2 separate regions of the Homo sapiens genome follow, and region 1 is linked to region 2. The links come from fine-mapping of genetic effects on gene expression. A gene starts in region 2. The other region holds a variant in brackets. All regions are shown on one strand. Distances are between the middles of the regions. Region 1 overlaps LAMC3 (laminin subunit gamma 3). Region 2 holds the start of LAMC3 (laminin subunit gamma 3).

What was found.
Region 1: its variant is fine-mapped to the expression of LAMC3 in whole blood (TOPMed, PIP above 0.99).

Annotation. Positions count from the first base shown.
Region 1 is chr9:131,037,394-131,042,393 of GRCh38, forward strand. LAMC3 (laminin subunit gamma 3) reads left to right here. Exons shown (of 28, transcript NM_006059.4): 5 at 1,471-1,659; 6 at 1,738-1,855; 7 at 4,244-4,342. Among named protein-coding and RNA genes, the nearest start is that of LAMC3, 31 kb to the left of the region's middle. The variant G/A (reference allele first, on the strand shown) is at 3,064.
Region 2 is chr9:131,006,616-131,012,066 of GRCh38, forward strand. LAMC3 (laminin subunit gamma 3) reads left to right here and starts at 2,559. Exons shown (of 28, transcript NM_006059.4): 1 at 2,559-2,972. The coding sequence starts at 2,600.

The DNA of each region.
Region 1 (5,000 bases), 31 kb after region 2:
AACTTCTGTCCATTGCAGCCGATGCCTTGGGCCTGGCCCTGCCTCCTCTCCCTGCACACCCGAAGCTTCCTCTTCCCTGCTCTCCCTGTTCCCAGCCCTCCCCTAACTGCAGCTAAGGCTCTTTTCTTGAAACACGGCCTCACTCTGTCACCCAGGCTGGAGTGCAGTGGCCCAATCATAGCTCACTGCAGCCTCGAATTCCTGGGTGCGTGTTCCTCCTACCTCAGCCACTAGAGTAGCTGAGACTACAGGCACATACATCACCATGCCAAGCAATGTTTTATAGAGCTCGGCTCTCACTGTTGCCCAGGCTGGTCTTTACACTCCTAGGCTCAAGCAGTCCTCCTACCTTACCTTCCAAAGTGCTGGGATCACAGGCGTGAGCCATGGCACTGGGCCAAGACTTTCTAAAGGACAAATTTAGTAACATCTATTCCCTGCTTAAACCTTCCCACGGCTCCCCCTTTGCTCCCAGCTAACGTCCACTGACCACGGCAGCCCAGCCTCCCTGGAGCAAGCTCTGCTAGCCTCTGACTTCACAACTGCCCCTGCACTGCAGGCCCCCCACTGCACAAAGTCCTTCCTTCCCTGCCATCACACGACATGCCGTCTGCAGCCAGCCTCATGGCACACCCGCACCAGGCCACGCGTCTGTCTCTGCATGTGGGGTATCCCCTGGGCTTTCGCCTCCTGTCTGCGACGCCCTTCCCGCCCCCTCTTCCTCTGCCTGGCCTATTCCTCACTGCTCAGCCTTCAGATTCAGCGCGGCCATGACTTCCTCTCGGAAGCCTTGTCCCACCACCCCAGCACAGCTGCAGGGGCCCCTTCTTTCGGCTCCCAAAGCCCCCAGCCTCTCCTGTCTCAGCCCTGCACCTGCAGGGGGTTTGCTTGCTTGCCGTCTGGGCTGTGGGCAGCACGAGGGCGGCAGGTGTAAATGGGTCCGCACCTTTCATGGATCCACCCCTGAGCTCACTCTGGGAGCCAAGACAGAGCCAGTCCTGCACACAGACTTTTAAAAATGATTTAATGGGGGAAATGAAAGGTGACTTGTGCTTTCTGTACCCCTGAGTGACCTCACACAATAGTGAGAGTCACACTATTATGGCTTGGAGGACCTCCAGGAGATTTTGGAGAGAGCCAAGCTGCCACTCCAGAAGGCAGCCAGCCTCTGATCGGTGCCCATCTATCTGGGTGTATATCCTTGTTGCCTGGGATGGTCTTCTTTCTGCCTGTTGTTTTGGTGTATTTACTAACAGTGTCCCCTTTGCTCTTAAGAGTGTCCTGTTTTGGAAAATCAATTGATCAATGTCTAGCCTTGATCAAGCTGGGCCTGAACTCCATTCTGGACCATGCTCTTGCCCTTCTCTTTGCACTGCCTGCTCATTTAGCACAGGGAGGCTGACTGACACAGATGCAGCCTCCTACCACATCACAGGGGACTCACACACCTTTCCCCACTCCTGCCCATAGCCTGCAACTGCAGTGGCCGCTCCGAGGAATGCACGTTTGATCGGGAGCTCTTCCGCAGCACAGGCCACGGCGGGCGCTGTCACCACTGCCGTGACCACACAGCTGGGCCACACTGTGAGCGCTGTCAGGAGAATTTCTATCACTGGGACCCGCGGATGCCATGCCAGCCCTGTGACTGCCAGTCGGCAGGTGAGTGGACTCCACATCCCCAGCCTCCGACCCTCTCCCTTTCCTGGCCTCAATTGCCCTGTGCCCTTCCTCTCCCAGGCTCCCTACACCTCCAGTGCGATGACACAGGCACCTGCGCCTGCAAGCCCACGGTGACTGGCTGGAAGTGTGACCGCTGTCTGCCCGGGTTCCACTCGCTCAGTGAGGGAGGCTGCAGGTGAGGGCGAGGGGCGGCCCAGTATGGACACATTGCACTGAATGACAAGAAGCAGGAGGAACAGGCTGTCAGCAGTCCCTCCCCTCCCCATCCCTTCCTGTCTGCAGCTACCTCGCCCTAATCCTGGTGAAGACTAGAGACACTCAGCTCCTGGAGAGGCCAAGAGACAAAAACAGACCTTAATGAGACCAGGCTGAGCCCTGTGGAAGCTCAGCGGATCTTGCAGGTGGAGGGCAGGCTTCCTGTAGGAGGTGCTGCATAAGTGCAGGGAGAGGGGAAGGACAGGTGTTTGAGGTGGGGTGGGGGGCACGGGAGGCCTCTGGAGGAGCCGTGGATCAGTGAGAAGCAGGAGTGGGTGAGGGGGAGGCTGCGTGGAGGCTACAGCAGGAACGCCTGGGCAGCCTGCATGGGGGTTTGACTGTGGAGAGGGAGAGCAGGGCAGATTCCAGAGCCCAGTGCAAGGAGGAGCTAATAGGACATGGTGACCAGGGGGTGGAAGAGGAAGAAGAGGTGGAGGCTGACCTTCGGGGTTCTCTGGGCCTCTGGATAGCAGGGCACGCAGTGTGGGGAGCGGGGTGGGAGAGGCTGAGTGTCATCTGGGTGCACCGAGTTTGGTACCTAGTGGGACAGCTGAGGGGAGAGAGGGACAGGGGCTCCTGGGGTCTGGACCTTACCCCAACACATTTGCCATCACTTGATTGAGAAAGTATACAATGGCCAAAAAACAAAAACAAAACAAAACAAAAACCTATGATAAATTTAGAAGCTTTTTTTTTTTTTTTTTGAGACAGATTCTTGTTTTGTCAACCAGGCTGGAATGCAGTGGTGCCATCTTGGCTCACTGCAACCTCCACCTCCCCGGTTCCAGCAATTCTCTGCCTCAGCCTTCTGAGTAGCTGGGATTACAAGCATGCACCACCATGCCCACTATCTCTATTTTTTTTTTTAAGATGGAGTCCTCCTCTGTCACCCAGGCTGAAGTGCAGTGGCGCGATCTCTACTCACTACAACCTCCGCCTCCCAGACTCAAGTGATCCTCTCATCTCAGCCTCCTGAGTAGCTGAGATTACAAATGTGCACCACCACACCCGGCTAATTTTTGTATTTTTTGGTAGAGATGGGGTTTTGCCATGTTGCCCAAGCTGGTCTCAAGCTCCTGGGCTCAAGTAATCCACCCTCCTCGGCTTCCCAAAGTGCTGATTACAGAC[G/A]TGAGTCACCGCGCCTGGCCCAGAAGCACTTTTAAGTGAACTTGCTTTGGTTGATAACGGGCATCTTTGTATATTTGAGAGGCAGCAGAAACACATTGGGGATATCTAGGAGAGCTCTGATTCCTTGTAAAATATTTGGTGGTTCTGGGCATAAAACTGACCATGAGATGGGGCCTGGCTGCTTCCCTGGGGTCCCTCTGTCCTCTGGACCTTTGCAGGTGCCACACCTCCCACCCCTGCCCCCTCTCCCCAGCCTGTGGCTCACAGCCTCCTGCTCATTCTTCAGGTCTCAGCTGAGCAGCCCCGCTCTCGGGACACCTTCCCTCCCACCTGCCCCTCGCCTGCACACCCAGGCTGAGTCAGAGGCCCCACAGTGCAGGCACAGCCTCTCGTACATCTCCCACAACACGTATCGCGGTACAGGGTCTGCGTGATCTGTCTGTCTACACCAGACTGGGATTCACCAGGGAGGAACCATGTCTTATTAGATGAGTGGATGGATGGAGGGAGGGATGGAAAGATGCATGGATGGGTGAATGAATGGGTGGATAGGTGGCTGCTGGACAGAAAGAAGGAAGGATGAATAAGTGGATGGAGGAGTGAGGGGATAGACAGAAAGATTCATGGAGGCCGAGCACGGTGGCTCATGTATGTAATCCTGGCACTTTGGGAGGCCAAGGCAGGTGGATCACCTGAGGTCACGAGTTAAAGACCAGTCTAGCCAACATGGTGAAACCCTGTCTCTACTAAAAATACAAAAATTAGCTGGACATGGTGATGCATGCCTGTAGTCCTAACTACTCAGGAGGCTGAGACAGGAGAATCACTTGAACCCAGGAGGCAGAGGTTGCAGTGAGCCAAGATCATGACACTGCGCTCCAGCCTGGGTGGCAAAGTGTGACTCTGTCCCAAAAAAAAAGATTCATGGATGATGAGTGAGTGCGTGGATGACAGATGGAAGGATCCTGGATGGATGTGTGGTGGGTGGGAAGATGGACCACTGTACCAGTGATGGATGGGTCACTTCCTTGGCAAGATGGGAACAGTAAAGCCAGGTCAGTTACCTGCGTCAGCCTCACTCCTGATGTTGGCAGCAGGGAAAGCTCCCTTCCTAGGATGGGCTGTTGCCATTCTGAATTTGCTCATTGCACATTTTCCTCTTGTCCTGTCTCATTGGCAGACCCTGCACTTGCAATCCCGCTGGCAGCCTGGACACCTGTGACCCCCGCAGTGGGCGCTGCCCCTGCAAAGAGAATGTGGAAGGCAACCTATGTGACAGGTTTGTGAGCTAATCCAGCAGTAAGCTTGCTGGAAGTGACCTGGGGGCTCACTGATGAGGCACCAAAGCTGTGGAGTGCGGGGAGGAGCAAGGGGCACGGTCTTCATGGACTTGGGTGACCTTGTCACCCTGTGCCCTTCCTGGGGCACCATGTATCTGTCATACAGGAAGTTACTCAAAAGCTTTATGGCACTGTTTGTGCTTTGATTCAACACCACTGATCATTCATAAGCTGAGAAAATACATGTCTTAGCTTAGAATCCTGAAAAGAAAGAACTGGAATGATAGGAGAGACCATCTAATCCAGGGATAGTAAATAGATGGTGCTCGTACTACCACCTGCTGTGGCAGACATCGCTAATGGAGCACTATCACAGGCCTCCCGTTTCACACTCACTGCAGACATAGCTAATGGAGCACTATCACAGGCCTCCCGTTTCACACCCACAGCAGACATCACTCATGGAGTATTATCAACGCTCCCCTTTCACACCCATGACAGACACCACTAACGGAGCACTATCACAACCCTTTCACACCCACGGCAGACCTATCACAGCCCTCCCTTTTCACACTCAATAGACATTACTCATGCAGCACTGTCAATACACCCCTTTCACACCCACAGCAGACATCACTAATGGTATACCCATGGTAC
Region 2 (5,451 bases):
GCACTAACATTTTTAAAAATTATATTTAACCATTGCATTGATCTAAAGACGGGTATATTAATATCATACGTTAAAACATGTTCTTCAGCCTAAAAGTTCTTTTTTTTCTTCTGACTTTAAAGATATTAGAACAGTTTTTGTGGGTTCCTAGAATTCCTGTGGGCTGCCATGTTTCCTGTGCCTGATAGATGAATTTGCTTTGGATGGGTGCACAGCCCAGCTCAGGGTAGCTGCGTGGACCATCAAGAGTCTGCTGCAATCATGTTCTTGACCATAAGAGAAAACTTTAACAAAGAAGCTTCCATAACACCATCAAAAAAACAATTTGGAATTACATTAAATGATATTTTAACTTGGGGAGAATTTGTATATTTAAACAGTTGGAAATCCGTGAATATAGATGCTGGTCTCTTCAGGTTTTCTGTCTCTCAGTAGCATTTTATAATTTGATTCATTTATATCTTGCACATTTCATACCAGATTTATTATTAGGTGTTCTACCATTTCCTACATCATTGCTGGCATCAGTTTTTTGTTTGTTTTGTTTTGTTTTTGTTTTGTTTTTTAAAAAACAGGGTCTTGCTCTATTGCATAGGCTGGAGTGCATTTGCGTGACCTCGGCTCACTGCAACCTCTGTCTCCTGAATTCAAGCGATTCTTGTGCCTCAGCCTTCCAAGTAGCTGGGATTACAGGTGTGCCACAATGCCTGGCTAATTTTTGTATTTTTAGTGGAGATGGGGTTTCACCATATTGCCCAGGCTGGTCTCGAACTCATGACCTCAGGTGATCTGCCTGCCTCAGCCTCCCAAAGTGCTGGGATTACAGGCGTGAGCCACCGCACCCAGCCAGAAAATGCCTATTGCTGGCATTGGTTTTCGTACTCTATCCTGTAGTCAGCCATCTTACGGAGCTCTTATTAATTTTAATAGTCTTAGTAGAATCTTTTAGATTTTCTAGATGTATGTTCAGGTAAGTAGAAGATATAAATATTTATATCTTTTAAGTTTTTTGTCTTATTGTATTAGCTAGAACTTCCAAAATAACCTTAGGTACCAGTGGTGATATCATATACTAACTCTACTTAGATATAGTTCTGAAATCTCTAACTTATTCCATGGGTCTATTCTGTAGTCCTTTCCACAACCGTATTGTTTTAATCATGTGTAAATAACTGGTAGTGAATCAGCCCACTACAGTTCATCTTGCTTCCAAAAATTTTCTTTCTTTCTTTTCTTTCTTTTTTTTTTTTTTGATGGAGTTTCTCTCTTGTTGCCCAGGCTGGAGTGCAATGGCATGATCTCAGTTCACTGCAACTTCTGCCCCCCGGGTTCAAACAATTCTCCTGCCTCAGCCTCCTGAGTAGCTGGGATTACAGGCACGCACCGCCACACCCAGCTAATTTTTGTGTTTTTAGTAGAGACGGGGTTTCACTATGTTGGCCAGGCTGGTCTCGAACTCCTGACCTCAGGTGATCTGCCTTCCTCAACTTCCCAAAATGCTGGGATTATAGGCGAGAGCCACCGCGCCAGGCCAGGAAATTTATTTCTATTTTCCTTAGAGTTCGTCTGGGAATGGCTGCCTTTTTTTTTTTTTTTTTTTCGAGACAGGGTCTGACTCTGTTGGCCAGGCTGGAGTGCAATGGCATGATCACAGCCCACTGCAGCCTAACCTCCCGGGCTCAAGGGATCCTTCCACCTCAGCCTCCCAGGTAGCTGGGACTACAGGCTTGTGCCATGACGCCGGGCTAATTTTTGTATTTTTTTGTAGAGATAGGGTCTCACTATTTTGCCCAGGTTGGTCTCGAACTCCTGGCCTCAAGTTATCCTTCCGCCTCCACCTCCCAAAGTGCTAGGATTACAGGCGTGAGCCACCGCGCACGACCTGGCTGCTAAATTTTATCGAATGACTTCTCTCCCTCGATTTGCTAATGTTAATAAATGGGGAGTAAAGGGGGCATTTATGGGGGTTGGGGCAGAAGACAAGGAAGCCCTCTCTGAGGTGACATTTGTGATAAGACCAGGTACCCTTGTCACAAATGTCAGGTTAGAATCTCTTTGCTGTGGGGACAGAGCGCAGCCGGCAGCAGGAGTGCTTTTCAGGGTTAAGGGCGACAGGAGCTATGCGGAGCCATCTCACAACCCTGTCCAGGGCACACTTTATTGCTAGGAGGAGATGCGCAAACGGTAGCGATCAGTTAGAGATAGATCCTCTTGTCCCCTTTTATCTCAGGACTCCAAGGCACTGCTGAACAGTTTCTGTTTAATGAGCAGCCATTGAAGCCTCCCAATGGCGAGAATGAGCCTGCATCTTTACCGACCCCACTCCACAGACGAGGAAACTGAGGCTCAAAGAGGCCCGGGTCGCCTCTGGGGCAGACTCCCGAGCCGCGCACTGCCGGGCACGTCCAGCAGGTGGGAGTGGGCGCCCGGGGACGGCGCGGTCCCTGGTATTTTTAGTGGGGTGGGGCCGCCGCCGCCCGCCCCTCCCTCCAGCCTCCCCGCCCCGCAGGGGAAGGCGGGTCCTGGCGGCCAGCGCGCGGTCCGCGCCCACCCTAGCCGAGCGGGGCCGGCAGAGCGCGCGGCGTCGGTGCCCTTGACCATGGCGGCGGCTGCGCTTCTGCTGGGGCTGGCGCTGCTGGCACCGCGGGCGGCCGGCGCGGGCATGGGCGCGTGCTATGACGGCGCAGGGCGCCCGCAGCGCTGCCTGCCGGTGTTCGAGAACGCGGCGTTTGGGCGGCTCGCCCAGGCCTCGCACACGTGCGGCAGCCCGCCCGAGGACTTCTGTCCCCACGTGGGCGCCGCGGGCGCGGGGGCTCATTGCCAGCGCTGCGACGCCGCCGACCCCCAGCGCCACCACAACGCCTCCTACCTCACCGACTTCCACAGCCAGGACGAGAGCACCTGGTGGCAGAGCCCGTCCATGGCCTTCGGCGTGCAGTACCCCACCTCGGTCAACATCACCCTCCGCCTAGGTAAGCGCGGGCTGGGGGCACCGCCACCGCACCCCGTGTCCCCACTCCACTGGGGGTCTGAGGCTGAGGCCTGAGCTGCTGTGCGCCCAGGTTGGGCTGCAGGACCCAGATATGGTGTTGGATGGAGGGGCTCAGAAATAGGAATTAGGCTGGGTGCGGTGGCTCACTCCTGAAATCCCAGCACTTTGGGAGGCCGAGATGGGAGGGTCGCTTGAGCCCAGGAGTTCAAGATCAGCCTGGGCAACGTAGTGAGATCCCATCTTTACAAAAAATAAAGAAAAATAGGCCGGGCGCGGTGGCTGACGTCTGTAATCCCAGCACTTTGGGAGGCCGAGGCGGGCGGATCACCTGAGGTCAGGAGTTCGAGACCAGCCTGGCCAACATGGTGAAAACCCGTCTCTACTAAAAATAGAAAATTTGGCCGGGCGTGGTGGTAGGTGCCTGTAGTTCCAGCTACTCAGGAGGCTGGGGCAGGAGAATCGCTTGAACCCGGGAGGTGGAGGTTGCCGTGAGCCGAGGTCGCACCACCGTTCTCCAGCCTGGGCAACAGAGCTAACTCCGTCTCAAAAAAAAAAAAAAAAAAAAAAAAAAGCTGGGCGTGGTGGTGCACACCTATGGTCCCAGCTACTCAAGAGGCTGAGGCAGGAGGATCACTTAAGACTGAGAGGTTGAGGCTGCATGAAATATGATAGTGCCACTGTGCTACAGCCTGGGCTACAGAGTGAGACCTTATCTCTTAATAAAAAGAAAGAATGAAAAAAAGAAGAAAAAAAAACAGGACCTGTACCCCTAGATAGCCAGAAGGATAGACTGAGGGGTGCCCCGTGGGGCGGGAGAGGCAGGGAGTCACTTGCTGAGCTTTGGTTCTAGGTTGCAATTATAATCCCCTGTAATGGTTTTCCATCCTAGACCAGAACTGTTGGGGAGGTGACACACCAAGGACTGAATTGGTCACCCTCTAGGGCAGGGGCTCCTGATCTTGGGTCTTCTGGTCAACTTCAGGTATTCAGTGGACCCCTGAAGCTGCCTGCAGTCCTCGGGTGGGTTCTGGAAGATAGAAGCTGTGATGTTCATCACTGCACAGGCAAAGTTTAACCCTCTGGGGAGGAGGACTAAGTTTCTTCGTGCTGCTGGGCAGCTGCGCCCGGTGGCATGGCCTCTCTGCCCTGCTCATGACTTGCCGAGGTGCAGAAGCCCTTAGATCTCCAGGAATCAGAATCTGGAGTCTGGACCCAGCCCCGGTTCTCAGCCCCTGCCCCCACTGCAGGGAGCTGGAATGCTCTCTCCTCCCTCCGTGTTCAGCCCGATTCCCATGTCCTCTGTGGCCGGGTAAGCGCCAAGTGTCTTTCCTGTTGCAGCCTCCACTGCCCTTTCAGGAGGGGCTGGTATCACTGGTTAGACTCCCTTATCTTCGAGGTCAGCCTCCCAAAGCTTTGAAAACTCAAATTATTTTTATAACTCATTTTTGCTGCTAAACCTGACCTGAGGCTATTTATAAGCTATGTTTATGCTAGTGAGAATGAATATTCATTCGCTTTGCTACTGAAATCTCATTTGAGTACAGCCGGCAGCCCCAGACCCCACTGGGGGTATTAGCACAATATATGGTATAAGGCCTGCATCGTCTTTCTAAAAGCTGAAAAATGTTCAATTCCCAAACACATTTGGAGCCTAGGAGTTTGGATTAGGGATGATGGGACTGTATCCCATGTTTCAGCTGAGAAAATTGAGGCTCAGAGAGGTTGTTTTGCCCAAAGGCACAGAGCTGCTAAGTGAGCATCTGAGCGTGGACATCCATGGACATCAGAGGTCAGAGCATAAACTCTTTGATGTGAGTTCCGCCACCCATCAACTGAGTCAGCTCCACCTCAGCCTGGTGACAGTGTCCTGGGGAGGGCTGGGAAGTGACATTGGAGTGGGGTGCGGGGAGGACCGTGAGCCCGCTCTGCAGAGCACACAGGTACTGGCTGCCACCTCAGAAACTCCCTTCTTCTGGGGCCACGTCACCTTCTCTCAGCCTATCTGGATCACTAGGTGGGGCTTCTGAATGGGACGAGGGGGAGGGGACAGGAAGCCAGTGGGGAGGGGGGAGGCTGGGGGAGCTGTCTGGATGGAGCTGGCAGGACCCCAAGGCCACAGGGGAAGGAATCTGGGACAGGGTGGGGAGTTGTTGGGGAGACACAGTGCTCCATGACAAAGGGTATCACATGTGTCCTGGGAACCCAGGGGCCAAGGAAAGAGCTCAGCCCAGGCACAAACAAGGTGGGAGGAAGTTGGGAGAAATGGCCAAGTTTTTGGATTTGAGGTAGTTCCTGTTTACTGTGCATCTACTGTGTGCCAGGCCCTGTGCTGAGCTGTGCACCCTCGTGGAACTCTGCCTAGAACCTTAGAAGCAGAGTGGTTCTGATCCTTCTAAAAGCAAGGAACCTGAGAGCCTCCACACTGTGAATGTAGAGAGCGAACACACACACACATACAC